3 separate regions of the Homo sapiens genome follow, and all the other regions are linked to region 3. Evidence: fine-mapped expression QTL. A gene starts in region 3. Each other region holds a variant in brackets. All regions are shown on one strand. Distances are between the middles of the regions.

Evidence for each region. PIP is the estimated chance that this variant, and not a neighbour inherited with it, causes the effect.
Region 1: its variant is fine-mapped to the expression of LY86 in whole blood (INTERVAL, PIP above 0.99).
Region 2: its variant is fine-mapped to the expression of LY86 in whole blood (TOPMed, PIP above 0.99).

Annotation. Positions count from the first base shown.
Region 1 is chr6:6,630,505-6,638,504 of GRCh38, forward strand. The region is part of intron 3 of LY86 (lymphocyte antigen 86); the gene reads left to right. Among named protein-coding and RNA genes, the nearest start is that of LY86-AS1, 12 kb to the left of the region's middle. The variant T/C (reference allele first, on the strand shown) is at 3,945.
Region 2 is chr6:6,620,357-6,628,356 of GRCh38, forward strand. It overlaps LY86 (lymphocyte antigen 86), which reads left to right. Exons shown (of 5, transcript NM_004271.4): 2 at 4,570-4,656; 3 at 5,937-6,065. It overlaps LY86-AS1 (LY86 antisense RNA 1), which reads right to left and starts at 2,470. Exons shown (of 8, transcript NR_026970.1): 1 at 2,276-2,470. The variant T/A (reference allele first, on the strand shown) is at 4,607.
Region 3 is chr6:6,584,708-6,593,129 of GRCh38, forward strand. LY86 (lymphocyte antigen 86) reads left to right here and starts at 4,013. Exons shown (of 5, transcript NM_004271.4): 1 at 4,013-4,163. The coding sequence starts at 4,028. All of the region lies in intron 1 of LY86-AS1 (LY86 antisense RNA 1), which reads right to left. RefSeq lists enhancers at 376-485, 2,310-2,399, 2,410-2,539.

The sequences.
Region 1 (8,000 bases), 46 kb after region 3:
TGCTTTCAAACAGGTTCCATAAGCTACACATCCACTTTTAAGACTAAATTGAGCTTCATTGAATGTCCTTAATGACCACAACTAATTCCTAGCCCAAAGGAGGGAAGCTGCAGCCAACTCCCTCAATCCTCAAGAACAACAATGCCGATAGAACCCCTGTGTGATCCGGGAGCTTTGGTCTGGTCTGCAAACACCAAGCGCGCCGTTACCCCAGTGGGTCTCCATCTTGGTCGCACATTAACTGCTCCTGTGCTTTCTGAAGCAATGACCACAAGCCACAGGTCGCGACTGAGCCCTGAAATGTAGCCAGTCTGAATAGAGATGTGCTGTAAGTGTAAAGTACAGACTCAGTTTCAAAGCTTTAGTCTTAGAAAAAGAATGTAAAATATCTCTATCATTGTTCCACTGGTTATGTGTTGAAATGTTAATATTTGGAATATACTGAGTTAAGTAGAATTTATCATTAATATATTATTTTAATCATTTATCAATGATAAGATATTAATATTATATTAAAATTAATTTCAACTTTTAAAATGTGGCTCCTAGAAAACATAAAATTATATGTGTGACTCTCTTTAATGTTTTTACTGGCAGCGCTGCATTATTATCTCCCTTTATAATTTTGAAGCTCCCAACATCCAGGCCATACCCCAGACCAATGATATCAGAATCTCTAGGAGTGAGAGCCAAGCCAGGTGGTGACCAGAAGTGCTCTGTGTTGAGAATATGGGAGGAAAAAACTGTTTTTTCCTACATACACCCTCATCTTATCAGATGAGGAAATTGAGTCTAACTTACCCAAGGTCACAAAGCCAGCGGGGGGTGGAACTGGGTTTCTGTCCAGCTCCAAACCCCTCTGCTGTATATCTTCTGTAAACATAAAGAAAGCTTTGCTAGAGAAGAAGTAAACTCATTTCAGCCCTCCACTAAGACCGGAAAAAGATTTAAAGGGCATAACAAAATTATAGAAATCAAAGGATCATCTTTGGGCATAACCAGCCATTATTATAAGGCAGTGGTTCTCAAAGTGTGGTCCTCAGACCAGCAACATCAGCATCATCTAGGAAATTATTAGAAATGGCAGATTCTTGGTCCCTACCCAGACGTACTGAATCAGAAGCTCTGGGGTTGGGGCTTAGTGATCTGTATTTTAACAAGCCTTTTGGGCCATGTGTTGGCAAACTTTCTTCTGGAAAGGGAAGGATAGTAAACATTTTAGGTTTTGCAGACCATATGGTCTCTGTGGCAATTGCTCAACCCTTCCCTTGCAGAGATAATATGAAAATGAGTGGACATGGCTGTGTGCCCAGATTACATGAAGTGAGGTATGTCTATATCTGCTGCATGTATTTTATAATTGATTTGGCTTTGTTTAATTTATGGACACTGAAATTTAAATTTCATTTAATTCTTACATGTGGTGAAGTATTATTCTTCTTTTGACTGATCAGTCCTGCTCTAAGTGGTTCTGTGGCATGTTAACTTTTGTGAACCACTGCTAGAAGGTAAGTCAGAATCCAGGGCTCTTAGCCAGAGTTACTGAGCACAGGTATGCGGGGGCTGTCACCAGGTGGACACTTGACCTGAGCTGCAGCATAAATTCAGATCCAGGACACCAAGGACAATGCCACACCTGTGCTTTGACTCTGCTTTATAAGACCTGTGCCAAAAAATTAGATTTGGGGCAAAAGGGACTTAACAGATAGGCTGGTCAGAGTGGCAGCTGGCAGGAGGAAGAGCACCTTAGGAAAAAGCCAGAGAGCAGGCCTGGAGGTCTCCTTCCCTCCCCACAGCTGCCATGGACAGTCTGGAGGGCCATTACATTTCTCTATTTCTCAATTACTGCATCTATCAAATGAGAGTGGCCATAATTCATTATTGGGTAAGAGTGGAGACTAAATAAGATATGTGATGTGTCTGACGCGTTAGAAATCACAGCACTGAGTCCCTGGGCTTCCTCCCCTACCCGAGGGACCTTGAGGCAGAGGGTTGGAGCATTTTGTGAAAACTGCAGGGCTGATTGATAAACTCTGGTGGGTCTGTCATAGAAACAGGCCAGAGGACTCAAACTGGTTCACCATAGAGCCAGAGGAGCAGCCAGTCCATAACATCTCACACTGCCAACCTGCTCAGGATCCCAGAATTTCCTGACCAGTAACTGAACAAGTCTTTCATGGCTATGTTGTTCTGTTCTGTTTTGTCTTCTTCCTTTGATCTAAGGTCAGCCTCTAAAATTTTTATTTTCTACCACTGGCTTGACTTCCATCCAGAATGCATAATCTTAGGAATGTCTACTCCCTTCAAGGGAACCTGACATCTATCAAAGTGTGATCTGTCACCCTAGCCCACAATAGTCTGACATAAAGACTTTTCCCAAAGTCTGGGTTTGTCAGCACTCACCAGCACCACACATGAGACACCCACAGCCCTGTCTAGCTTGGAATGGAGTCAAGTTCACTCCAGTCTCTTTCAGTCTCTGATTTATCAAGCGTTCAACACATGTTGATGTCCACTCTCAATGAGGTTCATTTTGTTCAAGCAGTTTCCTAGAATATTCCACGTCAGGAAGATGAAAGTGAAATAAGTTAAATAGAGCCAAAATTTGGTTGTAAGATGTACTGTGGAGCCTGAAACTCAGGTATCACCCTGGGAAGTAGAAGCAACACTTCATTCTTGCTCCACAAGCTCTACCCAATTAAAAAGTGGAGAGAAATGACTTAAAGGTGGCTCATGTTTGGACTGTCAAGAATATATTGTGTAGGGCCGTGGAGACGTGAGGTTCTCAACTGGAAGTGAACCTGGCGATTTGGGTAGAGACTCAGATTAAAGCCATAAAGTAAATAGAATGAACACATGATTTTCTTTCTTTTTAAAAATTGTTTTATATTATTTCCAACTTCTATTTTAAGTTCAGGGGTACATGTGCAGGATGTGCAGGTTTGTTACATAGTTAAACGTGTGCCATGGTGAATAACTGCACAGATCATCCCATGATGATCTGTGATACCATCCCATGATAACACCTAAGTATTAAGCCCAACGTCTATTAGCTATTTTTCCGATGCTCTCCCTCCTCCCATCCCCCACCCTCCAACAGACCCCAGTGTGTGTTGTTTGCCCCAATGTGTCCAAGGAACACATGATTTTCACACTTGATAATAAGAGACATGTCAACTATCAAACCTGGTTCTGGCCAAATTTCTATGAGTTCTGACCAGGGTAGATCAACCCAGGCAAAGTGGCCTTGGTTCCATAACACCAAGTGAGTAATACTCTTTCAAAAATAATTTGTGTATTGATTCACAGACTGACTTGCAGATATCAATTGTACACAACCTACTGCCAAAATCAACTGAAATTAAAGGCTTAAGCGAGTTAAATAAATTGTGTGTGTGTGTGCATGTGTGTATACACTGAGTGTATATGATTATGAATTAGAGTATCTGTAGGTCAAGGAATCTTCTTTGAGACCTTGAAAGCTGCGATTGATGTAATTCAACCAATGAAAACCTGAGAGGACTTAATTATGCCTTATTCATGTCAGGATCCGAGAGAGGTGCAGAAGATAATGGTGCCCACAAGAACTGCTGATTCATGGCGCATCCATGCCTGCACAAGCCACTTCTCAGTATGAGCAAAATCCATTATGAAACACATTCAACAGATACACATACCTCCCTGTGTGCAAATGCAAGCTAGAGAAAATAATTAGGTTTAAACTTGATTTTAAATGCATTAATATTTAAAGCTTGCAATTAAAAGAAATATGATGACACCTTTTGCAATCTGAAGAATCCTCTAGTTGAGAAAATAACTGGTCCCTGGTTTATCTTTTGTGTAAATCTGAACTTTCCTACTGTTTGACCGAAGTGAGAAATACATTATAATGAGATGAATTTCAATATAAAACAGAGTAGATCCCCTGAGAACTGTATTTAAAG[T/C]CTGGCATAATATTGCCCATAAGGCAGATATTTTTGTGACAGCATCCAAGAGATTCTGTTGTAATGCTCACTGATTTTATACATACAAATAAGTCAAAGGTGTAACCACGGTGGGTGCTTGTGGTTACCCATCTTCCCTTCCTTTTCATTACGTTTCTTAATTAGATGTTTCTCTTCTGGTCCTGGTTCATGCTGAACACTAGGACCTGTGATCCTCCCAGTATCATTCATTGCAGAGCCTTCTCAATCTCACTGTCTGCATCAATTCAAAATTCTGTCTTAACAATAATATCTAGATCAGCAGTCAGATCCCATCAGTTAGATTTCTATGGCCTCCTCTATTTCTGTTTCAATGTGCTCCTTTCCACAGATCTAGGAAATGAAGGGAATTTGGGGGGAGTGCTGGGAATGCAATCTGTTTACTGCCTAGATTTGGAAAAAATCCACAAATGCTTTCTGCAAAATGCCTTACCCTCTGCGCTGCTGGAGTAGAAGACAGGGCTAAACCACCTTCCCAGCAGGTGCTACTTGAAGAAATTAATCTATGCTGATGACCTGACAACCTCTCTAAAGCATGCTCCCAGCCATGGCCCCACTACCATGGGCTTCATGATTCAGTTGTTTCATGTTCACTGCACATACATTAACAAATGCAAGCCCAGGAATTCAGGCATTGATTTAGGCTATAACAGAAGGGGAATAAGCAGCTTAACAGAAGCCTAAATTTAAAAATACAGTAGTCTCCTCTTACCTGATAGGGACATGTTCCAAGACCCCCAGTGCATGCCTAAAGCCATGAATAGTAACAAATTTTATATTTACTATTTTCCCCATATATACATATACCTATGATAAAATTCAATTTATAAATTAGCCATAGTTAGAAATTAACAATAACAACTAATAAAATAGAACAATTATAACAATTTACTGTAATAAAAATATGTGAGTATGGTCCCTCTTTCTCTTCCTCTCTGCCTTTCTCTCTCACTCTCTCTCTCCCTTTCTCTCTCTCTCTCAAAATACCGTAACATTTTCAGGCCACAGTTGACCACAGGTAATTGAGACTGCAGAAAGTGAAACTGCAGATAAGGGGGACTATTGTCTACTGTACATGTTTTCTAGGGTATCACCTATGTTATACTTGTTTGCTCACCTTTGATTTCTGGGCCATTTTAGACTTCCTGCTCCTTCAAAAGCTGCAGGCTTTCCATCCCCGCACTTCATTCCCAACCTTCCCCAATCCTAGCTTCTGGTCCTGCCCTTCAACTGCTGCCAGTATCCCCAGTGACAAAGTGGCTGAGATGGGAACTCATGTGCCTTGGCTCCTCTTCTCGTGGATGGATCTATAGAGCCATGGAGGGAGTGCTAGCTTTCTGTGACCTGGAAAATTGCACTATTTCACCTGCCATTATTATCCCCACTGTCATTTTGTAGCTGCAGGCAGCATGTTACCAAAACCAATATTATTATGGAAGCATTTCCTGTCCCCTGACTCATCAGACTGCAGTGCTGCCGCTGGAGAGCAGAGACCTTAGCCCAGTCCAGTGGTTCTCAACCTTGAGCAGGCATCAGCATCACCCGGAGCCCAGGTTCAACCACAGTTGCTGGACCTAGCCCCAGGGTTTCCAGTTTCGTACATCAGGTGGGGAGTCTGAGAATTTGCATTTCTTACAAGTCCCCCAGTGAGGCTGATGATGCTGGCCCAGGGACCACACTTTGAGAACCTCTAGCCTGGTGGTTATGCACAAGATTTGAAGCCAGACCTACATAGAGCTGAATCTTTACTGCCACTTACCATTTATGTGAACTCAGACAAGTAACTTAATCTCTCTGAGCCTCAGTTTCGTCATCTGTACAATATAGAAAATACAAGTGACCTCATGGGATAGTCATAAGGATAAAATGGGATAATACACATATAGCCCATAGAATGGCGTTCTGCACACAGCAAGCATTCAATAAGTGATCCATGGCAGCAACTTTGTGCAGCTGATGACAGGTTTCTCAAGCAAGGGCCCTGAGCCCCTCAAGTCATCATCTGTCTCAGACTGGAAGTCTGCATTTTAACAAGGCCCATGAAGAGGCAGTGGAGTCATTGAGGCTTAGAAGTTTAAGACCTTTTCCTTACAGGTAGCAGGAAGATGCCTTTGGTCTAAGCCTGCATATTTTCTGATGGTTGAACAAGGCGAAGTTTCCCTGGCCCTCTTGTCCCTGTGGGGAGAGAGTGTCATTTGCATCTCTCATGGAATTGGAAATTTGAAGCACCATCATCTCCCCTTCATTCCTTTCTTCCTTTCATGTATTATTCCTTGTCTCCAGACTTCAATGGTAGATTTCCTGCTTGTAAATACCAGGCAGCTGCTGCTGCAGCAAATTCATGCAGAATCACCAAAAACAATGGTTTACTTATTGCATTAGCCGAACTCCTACCCTCGAACTGCAAAAAAAAAAAAAACAGAACTAAAAGCAGTAGCCACCCTCTAGAGGGTACAAGCAATGACTAAGCAAAAGAGTACTTTTTCTTGCTAAATGGAATGAAAGGAAGCATATTGGTTTTTTTTTTTTTTTTTTTTTAATGAGAAGGAGTCTCGCTCTGTCGCCCAGGCTGGAGTGCAGTGTGATGTGATCTCGGCTCACTGCAAGCTCCGCCTCCCAGGTTCATGCCATTCTCCTGCCTTAGCCTCCCGAGGAGCTGGGACTAGAGGCGCCCGCCATCACGCTCGGCTAATTTTTGTATTTTTAGTAGAGACAGGGTTTCACCTTGTTAGCCAGGATGGTCTCAATCTCCTGACCTCGTGATCAGCCCACCTCGGCCTCCCAAAGTGCTGGGATTACAGGCGTGAGCCACCGCACCTGGCCACATACTGTTTTTTAAGGAATTCTAGAGCCCTGGGTGCTTTCTCCCCATCCTCAAATGCAAGCATGTTTGTAAATGAGCCAACCATGCTGCAACTGTACTTTGACATCAGTCAATTCTTTATGTTCCTTGAGCCCAGCATACTATGACTAAGGATGACCTAGGACCAGAAATACTTTTAATTTTCTAAGACAAACTTCTTTACAAATCCTTGACCGTTATGGAATTTCATAAATCCAGCTCAGTGACATACTTTGATGTAATAATCGTTTAGGAAGCTAATTAAGATGGCCAACTCACGACTCCCCCACATCACCCACTTGGATCCCAGAGCTGCTGGTATTTGCATTTTAAGAAACTAAACATCCCGAGAGCCCTGAGTGTGTGAGCCCGGAGCCCCCCAGTGTGAGAAACGCAGCCCTCTGTGATGTCTGTTTGTTTAGCTTTCCAGTCGCATTACTCTTTCCCAGGGTTGCCCAGGTTTCTGAGGATCAAGTCAATTTCTTCTCTTTGCTTCCATCATCATCTACTTCATTTCCATTTCTAGGAATCTAATCAGCCCACCAATTTATAAGTCGTATTTTGAATGTCGTATGAAGTATTTGTCCACAAAATTTAGGAACTGGTTGGTAGGTGGAACAAAAAAACTTAAATTCTTTTTGTTTTGCTGCTGGAAGTTAGGTATCTCTCAGAGGGGGAAGCTGGACAGCAGACAAACAGGGCTTGCAGACAGAATGCCACTGAAAAAGTCATTTTCCCTGCTAGGCCCCGCTTCCTCAGCAACGACTAAATAGTCGGCACCATCCAGACAGTAGCTACTGGCCCCTGCAGCCATTAAGTACTAGGAGCATGGCCAGTCCAAAGTGAAATGTACAGAATACACACCGGATTTTGAAGACTTAGTACAAAGTATGAAAAAAATAATGTAAATATCTCATTAAGACTCTTTATATTGGTTCCATGCTGAAATGGTAATATTTTTAATAAGTGGGTTAAACAAAATATATTACTAAATTAATTTCACTTATTTCCTCTTCCTTTTTTTGTATAGTTACTAGAAAGTTTTATGTCGCATATATGGTTCACATTATATTTCTCTTAGCCAGTGCTGATCTAGAATTGCACTGTCCAATATGACAGCCACAAGTCACATGTGGCTATTTGAAGAATTTACATTTAAGTTAAATTAAAAATTC
Region 2 (8,000 bases), 35 kb after region 3:
AAGTAGAGCTAGAATATGGAAAATGGGACTAGCTGTGTAAGAGTTGGGCCCTCCTCTATGCCTCAAACTAACCAGCCAGCAACGCAGAGGCCACAGGGGGCGGAGCTACATCCATGGCCTCCAGGACTTAGGGACATACATCCAAGCTTTCCGGCTGCCTGAAGTCAAATCAAGGATTGGTCCAGTGGAGTGTACCCGGGCCCCCACCATCCTCTGCTGAGGAATTTCACTTCCAGAGTCTGTGTCATTGGATTTTGTCTTCTTCCTACTGATTCCAGTTGAAAGCCCACTGCTAGCTGTTAATAGAAGCCATTCTGACAAGGTTGTCCTCCCCTCGACAGCTGCCCAGGTCTAGCCCAGCCTAGGCCACTAATGGAGGGTGGAAGGCACAACAATACCTTTGGAGCTGATATTTGTTCAAACGCTGCTCACTCTAAACCTGGCTTGTTTATCCAACTCTATTTTACTCCATGAATGTCCAAGAAAACTTTTCTAGAAGAGATTTGATTGTTGCTGCCCTTTGTATGCAAAACAGATGCTGCTGGCTGCTCTCCTAGAGCTCTTCCTCACTTCTGGCAGGGTTCACATGCTGCTGGTTTGGAGAAGCCTGCCTTCGAGGGCCCACATGCCCGGGGGAGAGGGGAGCAGGGGCAGTTTGGGGTGTGCTGGATTCACCCACTATAATGCTGTCCTCCCTTGGGTGGAAGCCATAGAAGTCAACAGGACAGACAGCAAGGGAGTGCCACATAGAGGCCAAGGAAGAAATATTGAAAATGAACAGTCTTCTATTTCGTGATGAAGTTTTGACTTCTTTCCTCAGGTCATTTGCTGAAATACAGTGAAGTATCTGGAGGAAACACTTATCTCTGCCCTTGAATTCCCAGAACGCCAACTCTGATTAACTTTCCGATGTTATTGCTTCAGAAAGTCCAAAGTCAGATGATCCGTCTTACATGTATTAAAAGTTACTGAGGCAAGGGTCCAAGGGAAAGTCTCTCCGCTCTCAGCCTGTCCGTCACTGTTCATACTGTAGAAGGAGAACTACTTTAAAATGCAACCTACCATCTTTTATATTGGTAGGTGATTCTGAGGCATTTGCAGGATAGGTAAAGCCTGGAAATTGATACAGTGATTATTTAAAGCAGTGATCGCCACCAGGGGTGAGTTTATCCCTCATGGATACTTTGGTAAGGTCTAGAGATATTTTTGGTTTCACAACTAGAGGGTATGGGGATGCTACTGGCATCTGGTGGGTAGAGACCAGGGATGCTTCTAGACATCCTATGATGTGCAGAACAGCACCCACCACAAAGGATATCCAAAACAAAATGTCAATAGTGATGACATTGAGGAATCCTGCTTTAAGGTTCTCGGCAAATTTACTACAAATAACCACTACTATTCATCCAGCAAACAATCACTGGAGATTTAGTATGATATTAAGACATTATGTATAGCCCTGGCACTGGGGAGTTAGCTTTGCAGTATCTAGTGGAGGAATGACAGAGGTATACAAACAAATATAATGTAATATAAAACATGCAAAGTGCCTGAGTGGAAATGCAAATAAATACAGAGAAGGATATGAGTTTGAGAGGGTGGGGTTGGGGGAGGAGGAAGAACCAATGTCACTTTCCCCAAGAGGACCACAAACTGCATGTTTACACTCAAAGATATCACTCTTGCATATAAATTTGAAATAACTGCTAGGAAAGCTCACCAAACCCTTAAGCGCTTTTTAAGCAATCTGTCTTTCTGCTTTTATATACATATCCTCAGAGAGATGCAGCCTACAGCTTTCTTTGTGACTTTGTTCTTTATTGAGATTATTTTCCTAACAACAATGTGTTTCTAGTACCAAGAAAATGCTTTATTTCCTTCTCCCGCCCTTAGTTGATTCTTTCTATCTATACCTTTAAAATATTGATAAACATACAGTGTAATTCTATAGCTGCTAATCAACAACACAATACGTACTTAGCCTCTTTTATTTTGCCTGGATAGCAACTTAAATTTATCCACAATTTTGAGGATTCACCTTCCTAAGCATCTGTTCATTGGCTTCTGTCTTTTTCAATACTGAGTGCCAAGGATGTAGCAGGAACTATCGTCTCCAACCCCCTGCTCCTATTTTCCAGGCTGAAAGAAACCCTGGGACAGCACAGAGATACTTAGGAAGGAGTCCAATGAGCATAAGACAAAAGGGCTCTTTCCCACCCTTAGGAAAATTAGTGACTGGACCAAAGGGGTTTTGATCAAACAAAAGTGTACTTACGTTAGATTTGCAAGGCTGAAATTGCCTAGTGATCATTTCCATTGCAGATATCATAGACAATGATGCATCTTCCAGGTCAGCAATGTGGATGATAAAACTGTCTGGAACACTACATTGGCAAATGTGAGCTCATAGCTAAGCTGAAATGGAAATCAGTTATGAAACAGAACTACCAGATGCCATATGCCTGCACACAAAATATTCTGGGCAATCTTACAAATCAAATAAGTAACATATGTAGTTGAGGTTCTACTTTGTGAGTTTCACTGCACAATACCCGGGAGCAATTTGTTTGTTTGTTTGGTTTTAACTCTGGCTTTGAATCTTGACTCTGACACTTTCTAGTGTGGGGATCTAGATAAGTTAATACAACATCTCCGAGTCTATATTTTCGTAACAGTAAAATGAGGTAAATCATACCTATCTCTTCAGATTATTGTTTATTCTGCAGGTCTGGGTGCTGTCAGGAAAACGAAGACCATATCAGTTATTTTAACAGAGAGAATTTGATATAGGAAGTTGGTTAGAGAACCAGTTGCTGGAGAACCAAAAGAGCAAAGAAAGGACCCCTGAAGGCTGGGAGAGCAAAAGGCAGAGGTTGTGGGGATTAGAAACTGGATGCTTGACAGAAGGACCCTGTGGAGCTGAGACACAGGCTGCTAAGGAAAGGGTGACAGCTTCTGATGTGCTGTTACTGCAGTAGCTTAGGGCCCCGCAGAGCTGAGTCTCAGCTGAAGCTGGGAAGGTGCAAGAGAGCTGGAAACTGGAACCAACTGCCACTGCCAACATGATGGGCCATCACCAGTGACACTCCCAGCAAGTACTCACGAAGGAGCAAGTCCCTTCTTCGACTCCAGCCTCCATCTCTCTGCTACCTTGACTGGCAGACAGTGAAGGAGAAACATGATTACCGAGAGCCCAGTGAAAAAGCAGAGGAAAGAGGGCTGGATTTGGAGCTGAGAAACAGCCCCAATATATGGCCCATCCATTCACTCAACATGTACATTTATGGAGTGCTTACTGTGGATCAGACTGTGAGGCTGTGAGGCTCTCTGCTAGGTGTTGGGGAACCTAGAGAATTAAATGGAAAACACTCCTAAAGTACAAGGCTCAGCTATTAGTACAAGGTAAACCCTCTGTTAAAAATAGCTCTCCTATCTCCAGTCCAGTGGGAAACATAAAGGAAAAGGAAATGGAAAGCAAAACAAACAAAACAAAACAAGAAACCAGCTCTGGCCTTTAAGAAATCTCATGTTTAGATTCAGTGTTGCAGGATAAGCCACGTAGCAAAGTGCAGAGTGATACATGTTTGTACACTTTACCAAGAATGCCAGACATCGCTGTTTTAAGAGTTCAAGGAAGCAAGAGAATATATGGGGGCAGGGAAGCCTTCACAAAGAAGATGGGAATGAGCAAGACCTGAGGATTTAGATAATGGCCAAAAAGACTAAGACCATTGCAAATGGGAGAAAGCACACAAGCAAATCAAACATGGTGGGAATGTGCTGGTGTGTATGTTGCCACTCTGGCCTCAAGGAATGAAGGATGGATTTGTGATGTGGAGGATGGAAGTTGGAGCCAGTCGCTCATTTCTGGACTGTATTCTGAGGCATAGATAAGCCATTGGAGCTTTGTGAATGAGCAGAAGTTGTATGCAGAAAATATTATCTTTATAGCCCCTATCATATCTAACACAATACCTTGTACATAGTGGAATATTTGGAGGAGGAAGCATTACATTAAATGGGATGGGATGGGATGGGATGGGATGGGATGGGTTGGGATGGGATGGGATAAAATGGAATTAGAAAGGCAGGTCTTAACTTTGAAAATCTTTTTAGAAAATATTTTGAGCCTAAGTATTAATGTCTACTCAAGCTCTCCTAACTTTTGTATCTCCCTCTGTTTTGATAATAATAATAGATACTTTATTAAATCCGCTATGCAATCCATGAGCAATTTTAAGGCCAAACGTTCAGGAACTAAAAAAATTCAGGCAATGATAAACATTTTCTATGATAAAAACATTAACAAGTAAAGATATAACCCAACTAGCAAGACCCTGTTTATTCCATGGATGGAGGCCCCCTGTTGTCAGAGTGAACATGATGTTGGCTTTGAAGACACGGGGGGGAGCTGATGAAAATATCATGGGCTTATTTTAAAAAGTGTTGGGCAATATGCTTTTGAATAAATGTAGCAATTCATGTGAAAACAATATTGTTGCAAATTTTGAATATGTTTGCAAAATATACGATGTACTCGCAACTAATCTATTGTTTTCTTCTTCGTAGATCCATTACAAGATTTTGGCTTTTCTGTTGAAAAGTG[T/A]TCCAAGCAATTAAAATCAAATATCAACATTAGATTTGGAATTATTCTGAGTAAGTAAAAAAAATGATTAGCATGAAATAAAACATTGCACAGCCTCTTCCAACTCCACACACCCAATGACTTATGTTAACTGTAATGACTGGCTAAACTACTGTTCCCTCACCACTCTCTGGAATTAACTCTATTTATATCTTCATTTTCAAATCTTTCTCTGGGTTATATTCAGGTAGGGTAGAACTCTCACTTAAAGCTGTACTTTTGTATTAAAAAGACTCTAGGCACTCATTTGGATGATATAAGCACCTGGAATCAGTATACCCAGCAAAAAAAAAGGAAAATATTTTGAGATTAAGTATTAATGTCTACTCAGGATCTCCTAACTTTTTTAGTTATCTCAGCAACAAATAAATCTACTACCAGCGGTACGGTTTGTCATTTGTGTTATTTTGTATCCCAAATAGTTAATACAAATTCTTAAACTTTGACATCGGCAAGGAGGAGATGTAATATTTTCTCTCCTACCCCAATCAGTAAGCTAGAGCACTTTCTGATTGTTTAATTTTCATATGATCATGCAATTATAGTTGGTCAATATATTTTCTATAGCTACTAGACGACCTCCTTTTCCAAAGCAGTTATATCAAAATCAAAGTAGAGAGGTTTAATAAACTTAGCATGTGGAATCATTCCAGAGAAATGGAGGGAACATTCATAGAAATCAAGAACTCTCACGCATCTTTGTATTTCTAGAATCTTACACAGTATCTGGACTCTAGCAGCAGCTGGAGAAATGTTATGGGGAGAGAAAAAGCGAGAAAAGAGAAATAGAAGAGTGGGTGGAACATAAAAGGGAGGAATGGAGAAAAAGAGAGAATTGGAAGCCACCACCATGGAACCCGCTGCAGCTTCCTGTGCACCTGTGCTGCAATACCTCCCTGGCAACAGCAGCAGGTGTATGTAGGCGTGACCACACCCCACCGCCATCATGGGGAACAAATGATACTATGCAACTGAGAAATTCCAGAAGCCAGACCTGCAGACATCACATTAAAAGGCCATAGCATCAGGGTGGGGAGCTCAGCTGATTAACTACCTTGTTCCAAGCAGGTATTTTGAGAAACAGCCACCTTTCATACGCAGGGCCCCATCATAATCCCCTGTAGCATTGCCTAAATGCTGTTTTACCAAGGAAAGAAGAAAACTGTTCCCCACACAGAGAAGATTAATGGAAACAAAAGGTTCTTTAGCTCATGCTGCTGTATACTGTGAATGCCTCTGATACACAGTGAAACACGCAGTAAGAGTAAAGCTGTTCTTCTCTTTCCTCCAGGAGAGGACATCAAAGAGCTTTTTCTTGACCTAGCTCTCATGTCTCAAGGCTCATCTGTTTTGAATTTCTCCTATCCCATCTGTGAGGCGGCTCTGCCCAAGTTTTCTTTCTGTGGAAGAAGGAAAGGAGGTAAGCCATCTGTCTTGCTCACTGCTGGCAGGGGCCTGCAGAGAGATAAACTCGAACTTGCATCTGAGGCCAGGACGCCCAGACCAGAGCTCTGTCTCTGCCCCTCGCCTTTGGACGAGCTTATCCTCACTTATCAGCATGTGTTGCAGAAAAATAACAATAAGGCCCATTCCATAGGCCTACCTTACAGGGCTGTTGTGAATATCAAAATGAAATGACACGTATGAGATGCTTTAAAACAGAACATTGTTACTGTGAGTAGCAGCATCTTATAAAAAAGGGCTGGCAGCAGAAAGAGCCAAGAGGTTCCAAAAATCCATTGAGGTTCAGAGTGCTCCCAGGTTTTCCCTCCACAACTTCCTTAGTGGCAGGATGTCCTTAATATAGTAATGGACTTCAAAAACGAAAAAAAAAAATGAAGCTTATGATATGTCACCACCTTTCCCACGTGGGTCATTGACTAGCAGGGCATCCGGGAGTTACACTCGAAGTAGAGAAACGGAAACCCCATTATATTAGCTACCTTTTCGGCAGTGCACCAACCCTCTACCGCCTGCCATACAGCCTTGAAGAAAGGGCAGGTCACCTTCCCCCACCTGTCCCCACCTCTCCTTTCCTCCTTGTCTTTACCCACAGCTTCACCAAGGCCCTGAGATGCTTCCGCGGTGTGGTTAAAACCTGGCTCTATTCTCTGACTGTCCTTCCCCAGGAGTGGTTCTCTCCCAGCTGCTCTCCCCTCCCAGGGTCTCCTTCCTACTCCCACTGGCCAAGGCAGGGCATACCCCCAATACACCCCTCACCCCACATCTCAGAAATACTCCTTTATCTATTTTCTCATTCAAGAGAGCTAGAATTTTAAACAGTAAATTCCTTGTGAAATGCTGCAATTACTCCTTTTAAATGAAAGATCTAGAAGAAATTGGAATCTCCTTTCTACAGTGAGGGATGCAGACAAAAGAAAACAAGGAACTTAAGGGAGGATTGGCCAGATGGAAGTCGGGGGAACTTTGCTGGGATCTGTAGAGGGCAGAACCAGCCTGGCTGCCTCACCACCCTCGCCATCCCTCCCGAGTGTGTGGCACATCACTGTATCCTAGCGTTTGCCATGTTGGACTGTCCTGGTTTACTGCCGTGTATCTTCCACATTGGACCACGAGCTGCTTGAGGGTAGGGTCATATCACCTTTGTCTTTTTATTCCCAGTATTTCAAATGTGGCTGACACACAGAGAGCTCTGAATACAGACACACGCAGAGCAAAATGCCTAACACGATTGAGCATTCGTACCAGGCCCTGTTCTAAGAGCTTTAGACCCAATAAGTCATTTACTTCCCACACCAACCTTACAAGTTAATACTACATTAATATTCCAACTTCATAAATGTGTAACTGAAGCACAGAGGGGTTTAGGAACTTGCACCAAGTCACAGAGCTTGAAGGATCCATGGCTTGAACCCAGGCAGGCTGACTCCAATCTTAGCTTTAATGAATGAATGAATAAAAGAACAAACAATACAACAAATGAGTGTGTCTTGCTTTTGGCCAAGGGGTTTATTTAAAATTATCATTTCAGAAATCTTTCTGCCCAGTGATCTGACTTTGTTTCAAATTGGGACTTTTTTTTTTTTCTTAGCTAACCCACCTTAAAATCATAAGTCAGTTTTCCTCTCTCAACTTACTGGAGACATTTCTGATTAATCAAGTACGTTCATGCATTTCCTCAGAATGGTGAACTCATCATTAGTCCGTCCCTATTTAACTTTTTCCACCTGCCCTCAGCTGGGCCAACCCCGAGCTCCTCAACCACAGTCAGTCCTTTCTCCTTCCCTCCCTCCCTCCCTCCCCTTCCTCCTTCCCTCCCCTTCCTCCCTCCCTCCCCTTCTTCCTTCTCTCCCTTCTCTCCCCCATCCCTCCCTCCCTTCCTCCCTTCTTCAGC
Region 3 (8,422 bases):
GCTATGCAAAGGGAAATTTTTGCCTAATATAATAAAGATCTGAGGGAAATGAGAGGAGAGCACCCACAGTCGGATACAAATGATGAGGAAGGTACATTTGCCACTGGAGACAGAGTGCTACATCATCACTGTGTAGCGTCAAGACTAGTTAGGACTGTCTGCCATCTACTGGCACATGTAATGTAGGTTACATTGGCCCAAACCCCCTTTCCCTGACCTTTTGTGGGTCACAGAGTGGAGAGGGCTGTCACATTGCACACTGCACAGGAAGCAATGCAGAATCTGTTCCTAAGGGACCTTTGCTTGTCCCACCTGCTGGCAGGCTGCTTCCCTCCACTCCACAGCAGCCAATCACCTGCTTATCTCTCCTCTCCCCTTCTCTCCTCCTCTCCTCTCCTCTCTCCCCTCCAGGCCTTTCTTTTTTCTCCCCTCACTCCCTGGAGTATTGTATTTTCTCTTGTGGCACAGCTTCACCCTTACTTGCTTACATACATAGCTGGACTCCTGCCCCCAGAGTCTCACATTTGATTCTTTAAGTCTCTCCTCAAACAAACATTTTCTCCTTAAGAACGGCTTTAGGGATGGTCATCTTGATAAGAATATTTTTACTCTGCAAGAAAAGAAAGGCACCGTCCTCAAGAAGACCTCTATGAAAGGAAAGCAAGGGTGGGTGCAGTGGCTCACGTCTGTAATCCCAGCACTTTGGGAGGCTGAGGTGGGTGAATCACCTGAGGTCAGGAGTTCAAGACTAGCCTGGCCAACACGGCAAAACCCTGTCTCTACTAAAAATACAAAAATTAGCTGGACATGGTGGTACACGTCTATAATCCCAGCTGCTTGGGAGGCTGAGGCAGGAGAATCACTTGAACCCGGGAGGCAGAGGTTGCAGTGAGCTGAAATCATGCCACTGCACTCCAGCCTGGGTGACAGAGTGAGACTTCGTCTCAAAAAAATAAAATAAAATTATATATATATATATATGAAGGAGAGCAGTGTGAGACATGGAAGAAGAGGAGGATTGTCCAAAAAGTAGAAAAGAAATCTGAATGAGACCAGAGCACAGCTTCTTCAGCTACAGCCTGCTAAGAGATTAGAAGTCAGCATCAAAGCCTGACAGTATGTGTGTGTTTGGTTACCATTACGTAGACATAACCATATTTTAAATAACTACCATAAACCGATTCTAATTTTATTCTATAATTAGGGAATAGGACATTCTCAAAGAACACTCTGGCTGTCTTTATAAAGGTTCTAGTTAAAGAACTCCAGACATCATTATGGGTTGATTTCTGAACTAGACGGCCATAACTAATGATTTCAATCAAATCCCATTTTCAGTAGGCAGAACTAGTAAGTAGAATTCCTTAGAGAATGTGGCTTACTCTTAATCCTATATGGGTATGTTATATATGTGTTATATAAAATGCCATCTGTCATAAAACAAAACATTTTATTAAGAAGATTTTTTTTAATTGTACATTCTGCAAATGATCAAATTCTGTAAGCTAAACCAGAGGTCCTCAGAATGTGGCCCCAGATCAACAACACTGGCATCACCTGGGAACATGTTAGAAACACAGGTTCTCAGGCCTCACCAGACACACAGGAGCAGAAACTCTGGGGTGGGGTCCAGCAATCTGCATGTTAACAAGCCCCCCAGCTGACGCTGATGCCCTGAAGACCACTCTAGCCTGAAGACCAATGTCCTAGGGTCACCATGATCACAAGGTTCCTGATTGGTCCATTTGGAATATTTCTAAATGCTAGTGCGATCCCTGAATTATGATTCCTTTCATTTCCAGGTCTTTTGATTCTCAAGAATCTGTACCCCTGTCTTCAGATGACACTGTTTCTGCAATAAAGCCAATGTTTGTGGCCCTGCCCAAACTCATATGTTGAAATCCTAAGCCTCAAGGTGATGGTATTAGGAGGAAAGGCCTTTGGGAGGTGATTAGGTCATAAGAATGGAGCTCTCATACATGGGATTAGTGCCTTTATAAAAGAGGCCTAAGAGAAACCCTTCGCCCCTTCCACCATGTGAGGGCACAGCCAGAAGGCACCATTTGTGAACCAGAGGCCCCTCACCAGACACTGAATCTTCTAGCACCTTAATCTCCAACTTTGGACCTCCACCCTCCAAAATGGTGAGAAATAAATGCTTGTCATTTAAGCCACCCAGTCTAAGGTATTTGTTATGGCAGCCAGAACATACTAAGACCATTTCCCTGCCACAGCTGCCCACAGCTCTCTGCTAGGTTTTCTGCTCCCTGCCCTGCACTCCTGGACTCCTCCTCCAGTGTCAATCATGACGCACTTTGCAGGGAAGGAAGTTCTCACCCTCAATTGCTCTCCTCACTCACATATGTTCAGAGCTCTCTTTACAACTGCTGGAGCACTCACATATCCCAAGGGAAAGCTTCTGTGTTCCATCCTGGACCTTCTAGGGGCTACCACGCTTCCACCAGGGCCGCTGCTCTCACCATAAGCTTCAGACTCTCATCTCCCGAGATCTTGCTCACAGCGCAGCTGCCTTCCGCTCACACAGGCCAGAGGGGCCACCTTGTCTCTTCTTAGAGCAACTTCCCACCACTCCCTTGGGGCTCAACCTTCGCTTTATGTTCTGTAAAAGCCAGCAGTTCTCAAACTTGAGACTGCATCAGGCACACCTGGAGGGCTTGTGAAAATCCAGAATGGTGAGTCCCGCCCCCCAGAGTTTCTGATTTAATAGGTCTTGAGTAGCCCAGAATTTGCATCTCTAACAAGCCCCCAGTGGAAGCTGAGGCTGTCATCTTCCCAGGCCGCACTTTGAGAACTGCTGTTGAAAGCCATCATCACTGAACTTATTTGCAGAGGTACCTAAAAATAATCAATCCACAACTGTTCCTTCTCCAAATGACCACTCTCTGATGTCTATCAAGAAATCCAAATTATTTACCAATTAATTTATTGGTAATTATGTTCCACCTATTTCAAAAAAAGTTTTGAGCTAACTCTAATTTTTGCTTAGCCATCAGCAGAAATAGTAAATTTACCTAGTGCATTCAGAAAAATGCTGTTCCTCCCAGGGAAAATAGTGTTTTCTATTGCTCCTGAAATCTGCTGACCTTGGCACTGACTCTGGTCCTCTTACATTAAGGTGAAGCTGGGGCGGGGTTGAGGAATCAAGACTGAGAAACCTTGCTGTCCTGCAGCAGAATAGAGATACATGGAAGAAGGAAGACAGAATCTTGGCTTTGAAGAGAAAGTGAGATGTGATGTCAATGATCCCACTAACACCAAAACCAGCAAACCAGCCTCCTTAAGGGTGGCCCCACCTCCCCACCCTTCCTACTTTTTCTACCAAGCCAAACCCAGAAATAGAACACGGCTCACTTCTCAGGGCTATTGCCTCTGCCTCATCTCCAGAGACCACATCTGCAGCTCCCAAAACAAGGTCTGTTCTGCAGCTGGACAATTCACTGCTAAAATCCCAAACCTAAGAGCAGAGCCAAAGCCAGAGGAGAGGAAAGTGACAATAGGGCCAAAGCCTCATTCCAGATTCCAAATGTCATTCTGTAGCCCTCGTGCTATCAACTGCTGCCTGCTGGCTGCAGCCAGGTCCCTGGGTCCATACACAGCCTGCATCAAGAGCCTGCAGAGACTCGGGGGCTGGAGATGGGAAACAGATGGTGGCCTGCGCTTTGTCTTTCCCAAGTTTACAGCCTCACCTGGGGGTGGAGGCTGTTCTGAGGGGCCCCCAAGAGGTAAGTTCACGCATCACTACTGACCCTCTCCCTGTGAAAGCAGAAAGTCAGCACGCATCCTACCCCAGACCAGACCAGCCACACCTGTAGATTCAAGGTCCTGGGGGAACAGTATTCAAATGCCTCTGCTCTCAGCCTTTTACTTCTGACTGTGGTTCCCAGCGAGTCTAAAATTTGAGAAGTGAAACTGAACATCCAACTGCCTTGGTGAGGGGAGAGGAAGAAATTTTACAGGCTTTTTATTGGCCGGTTATTTTTCTGTGTGTCCCATACAGGCCCCCACCATGAAGGGTTTCACAGCCACTCTCTTCCTCTGGACTCTGATTTTTCCCAGCTGCAGTGGAGGCGGCGGTGGGAAAGCCTGGCCCACACACGTGGTCTGTAGCGACAGCGGCTTGGAAGTGCTCTACCAGAGTTGCGGTAAGCCCTTGCAGTACACCCATGTGTGTTTATGGGGAAAGCAAGGCCCACAGATGTGAGCCGCTAGTGCTCAGTTGGAGTTGGGGTGGGAGGGGAGAGGGGACCAGCAGCTGAACACTTTCTCCACCTGCAGCAGGTCTGGGAGGGCCACTGGGAGCTTTTGGAAGAAGGAGCGGTGGGGCCAGGACTGGGAGCGGAAGAGAATGGCAGAACAACAAAGAGTACAAGAAAGAGAAATTGAATCTAAATATAGCCATTTACTAACACCACAGAACCCAAAAAAGAACAAAATGATCAGTGAGTCTACCAAATCATCAAACCTCACCAGCTGAAAATTAGGAAAAGCAGCTTCCAGTAGGCCCTTCCTCAACACCGTACACCTGGGCTACCTTTCCATCTGATGTACTTTGCAAGTGAAGTGAAAAGATCACTTCTGCCCAAAGAGAAGATTCCTGTCCCTCTCTGGACACTTTCAGAGCTTTCACTGCAGCAGTAGCTCTCATGAATTCAGCAAGCACTTCGCATGCAGCTATCAATGCCAGGGTTTCTCAGTGCTAGAGATAATAAAAGTGCATATGCCAGGCCTGTCACCCCAGCGGGCCAACCCAATACGCCAACAGATAATTGCAATTCAGTGAAGAGAATGCAGTGAACTGTGGTAAGAAGTGTCAGAACCAACCAATCGGGCTGTGTCTTAGTCAGCTAGGGCTGCCATAACAAACCACCACAGGCTGGGGACTTAAATAACAGATTTATTTCCTCACAGCTCTGGAAGCTGGGCTGGTTTCTCCTGAGACCTCTCTTCTTTGCTTCTAGGTGGCATCTTCTCCCTGTCTCCTCATGTGCTCTTCCCTCTGTGTACATCTGTGTCCTCATCTCCTCTTCTTATAAGTACACAATCATATCAGATTAGGGCCCACCTCCATGGCCTCACTTTAGCTTAATCAGCTCTTTAAAGACCCTATCTCCAGCAGGGCATGATGGCTCACACCTGTAATCCCAGCACTTTGGGAGGCTGAGGAGGGTGAACCACTTGAGGTCAAGCATTCAAGACCAGCCTGACCAACATGGAAAAACCCTGTTTCTACTAAAAATATAAAATTAGCTGGGCATGGTGGCACGCGCCTGTAATCCCAGCTACTTGGGAGGCTGAGGCAGAATTGCTTGAACCCAGGAGGTGGAGGTTGCAGTGAGCCAAGATCGTGCCATTGTACTCCAGCCTGGGCAAGAGGAGCGAAACTCTGTCTTAAAAAAAAAAAAAAAAAAAAAAAAGACCCTATCTCCACATACAGTCACATTCTAAGATACCGTAGTCCCCCCCCAGTCTGCTAGGAATACGTTCCAAGACTCCCAGTGGATGCCTGAAATCATAGATCGTTTTGAACCCTACATATACTATGGTTTTTGGACCCAATAAATGAGACAGCTACTAAGTGACGGACAGGCCGGTAGTAGAGACAACATGGATATTCTAGACAATTCGTGTTCCTGGTGGGCTGGGCAGCACGAGATTTCATCATGCTACTCAGGAGGATGCTCAATGTCAAACTAATGAATTATTTCTGGAATTTTCTATTTAATATTTTTGGACTGCAGTTGGCTGAGAGTAACCGAAACCTTGGAAAGTGAAATCTTGGATAAGGGGGCTGTACTGTACTGGGGGTTGGGACTTCAATACATAAATTTGAGGGGATGCAATTCATCCCATACAGGGCTCCCAAGTGGGGAGCAACTCAGGAGCCCAGCCTCAGGATCACATCTGCTGTTAGAGGGACTGGCTTGTGCAAACGCATGGCATTGTGATATCTGCCACTTTGGAGGGAGATGGGGGCAAAATGCCGTTTGAACTACAGGAGATGGAAAAGAGAAGTTGATTAAGCATCTGAATTGGCCTCACTCTAAGCTGGGGAGTGATGAGGATGCAGTGCTTGAGCAAGTACCTGATCCTACAACTGCCACCCAAAGAGCTGCCCAGAGAGGTCCAGATGGTCACTCTAGTCACCAGGGCCATTTGTTCAATTTGACCTCACTTTTAAAAATAAGGGACATTGAAGTGCACACACACACAAAAATTAAAAATAAGTAAAAGAGAATGAACGACTGGATGCTGGAAGTGCTGATCTTGTCACTCTAGGTTTTCCCATGGCGTCAGGACCACTAGTATCCCATTCATTTTCAGTGCAGGATGAGAAGCAAGATGTGAGATAAATGGACTGGTCAGGGTTGGTTTTTCCAATTCATCCTTGCATAAAGGTTGCCACAGCTGATCTGTCTCCCAGACTCACCCTCTGCCTGCAGCCAGGCTGGTGCATCCTTTCAAGTCACTTGCAAGAGGACTGGGCACGTCAGGGAAAGAACAAGGACACATCACCTGCCCACAGGAGGATGGCTCTTTCCTCTGTAGGTGAAGTTTCCCCATGGAGTCAGTGAATGTCTTAGCCAAGCCACTCAGAATAAGAGATGGAAGAGATGCAGTTCTCATCCAAGGGAGTGGGACGATCAGACAATTAAGCAACAGGGTAAATGCTTTGTGTGAAAGGCTGTAGTGAAGGCAGGCATTGTGCACCAGGGACATAGTAGTCAGACGATGGTGAGGTTGGTATCTGGATCTGTTGGAAAAGGAGTCACCAAGCCTAAGTTGAGGCTTAAAGACTGATGAAAATACTAATGATAACACCTCATGTTGGTGGAGGCCACCAGGCTAAGTACTTTACATGCATCATTCTTATGTTGCAGATGTGTAAACTGAGGGATAAAGATGTTATGACTAGTGAACTTTTCCAAGGCCACACAGCTAATAGTGGCAGAATTATATCCCCAGGGTCACAGAGAAGGTAAGACATTGAGGAACTATTGATGGAATTAAAACAAATTGATCCCCAGCCTGCCTGACTCCAGAACCCATGCTCTAAAACTCCCTGTGGTCTAGAGTTTAATCAGCAGGCAAAGTGGACTAAAGGAGGGGTGAGAGGAGAAGTTTGGCAGAGACAATGACATGCGTGAAGGCAGGAAAATGGGACCAGGCACAGGGTTCAGGGAACTGCGGGAGGGCTGAAAACACAAAGGGCTGAAAGAGGAAGTGGAAGACATGAGCAAGACCCCAGACAATGGCGGGCTGCCTCCCTTTGGCCAGGAGGTTGCATTTTGGAAAGATCCTCGGGCAGTAAGCAGGAGTGTAGATTTTGAATTGGAAGCTATTTGAGGCTGAAAATAGGGTTTTCTCCAGGTGGAGCAATAATTCAGGAAAGAAACCACTAAGGCCTAAGTTGACATCATTTCCGCAGTCTTGATAACCTTGAGGAGAAGGGAAACTTCACAAGCAGTTACTGGGCTCTGAATACTGACTAGGAAGTAAGCAGTTTTCTGAAAAAGCAGAAGTCCTGGCCTGGCCAACTGTCAATGACACAGGAAAGAAGAGAGCCACTGTCTTTACTAAAGCAAAAGGAGGAGCAAACACAGTCAGGGCCTTGGGTTTGCTAAATCACGAGTCCCACGGTTACAAAAGCCCAGAGACTCCACTCCATGCACAAACCACAAACACCCACCGATATATTTATTTATATGCTGCCTCCAGCATATACACGAAGATGTGAGGAGATGACAGAAATACTTATGATTGGAAGGGGAAATAAGCAGCAGTGGAAGAAGCAGGGTGAGGGGAAGCATAAGGGAAAGTGCTATGGACTGAATGTTTGTGTCCCCTGAAGATTCATGTTAAACCCTAATCCCAGTGTGACAGCATTAGAAGGTGGGGCCTTTAGGAAGTGATTAGATCATGAGAATGGAGACTTCATAAATGGGATTAATATCTTAAAAGAAGAGGCCAGAGATCTCTTTTCACCACATGAGGACACAATGAGAAGGTGGCTGTCTGTAAACCAGGAAGCGAGCCCTCACCAAGAACCTGCTCCTGCTGGCTCCCGGATCTCAGATTTCAACCCTCCAGGACTCTGAGAAATCAATGTTGGCTGTTTAAGCCCCCCAGTCTATATAATTTGTTAAACCTGCCTGAGTTGGCTAAGGGGAAATCATAAAGGCAGGAGAGGTTAGGACACATGTAACAGATAGAGCAGCATGAGAGGTAAGAGCTTAGAATCTGGAGTCAGCAAAGCTCATTCAAATCTTGGGCAACACTCTAGATCTCATGTTATTGTTTGTAAGGAGGGTGTATTCGTTTCCTGTTGTTGCTGTGACAAATTTCTACTTGGTGGCTGAAAACAACACATGTATTTGCTCATAGTTCTGTGGTCAGAGTCCAA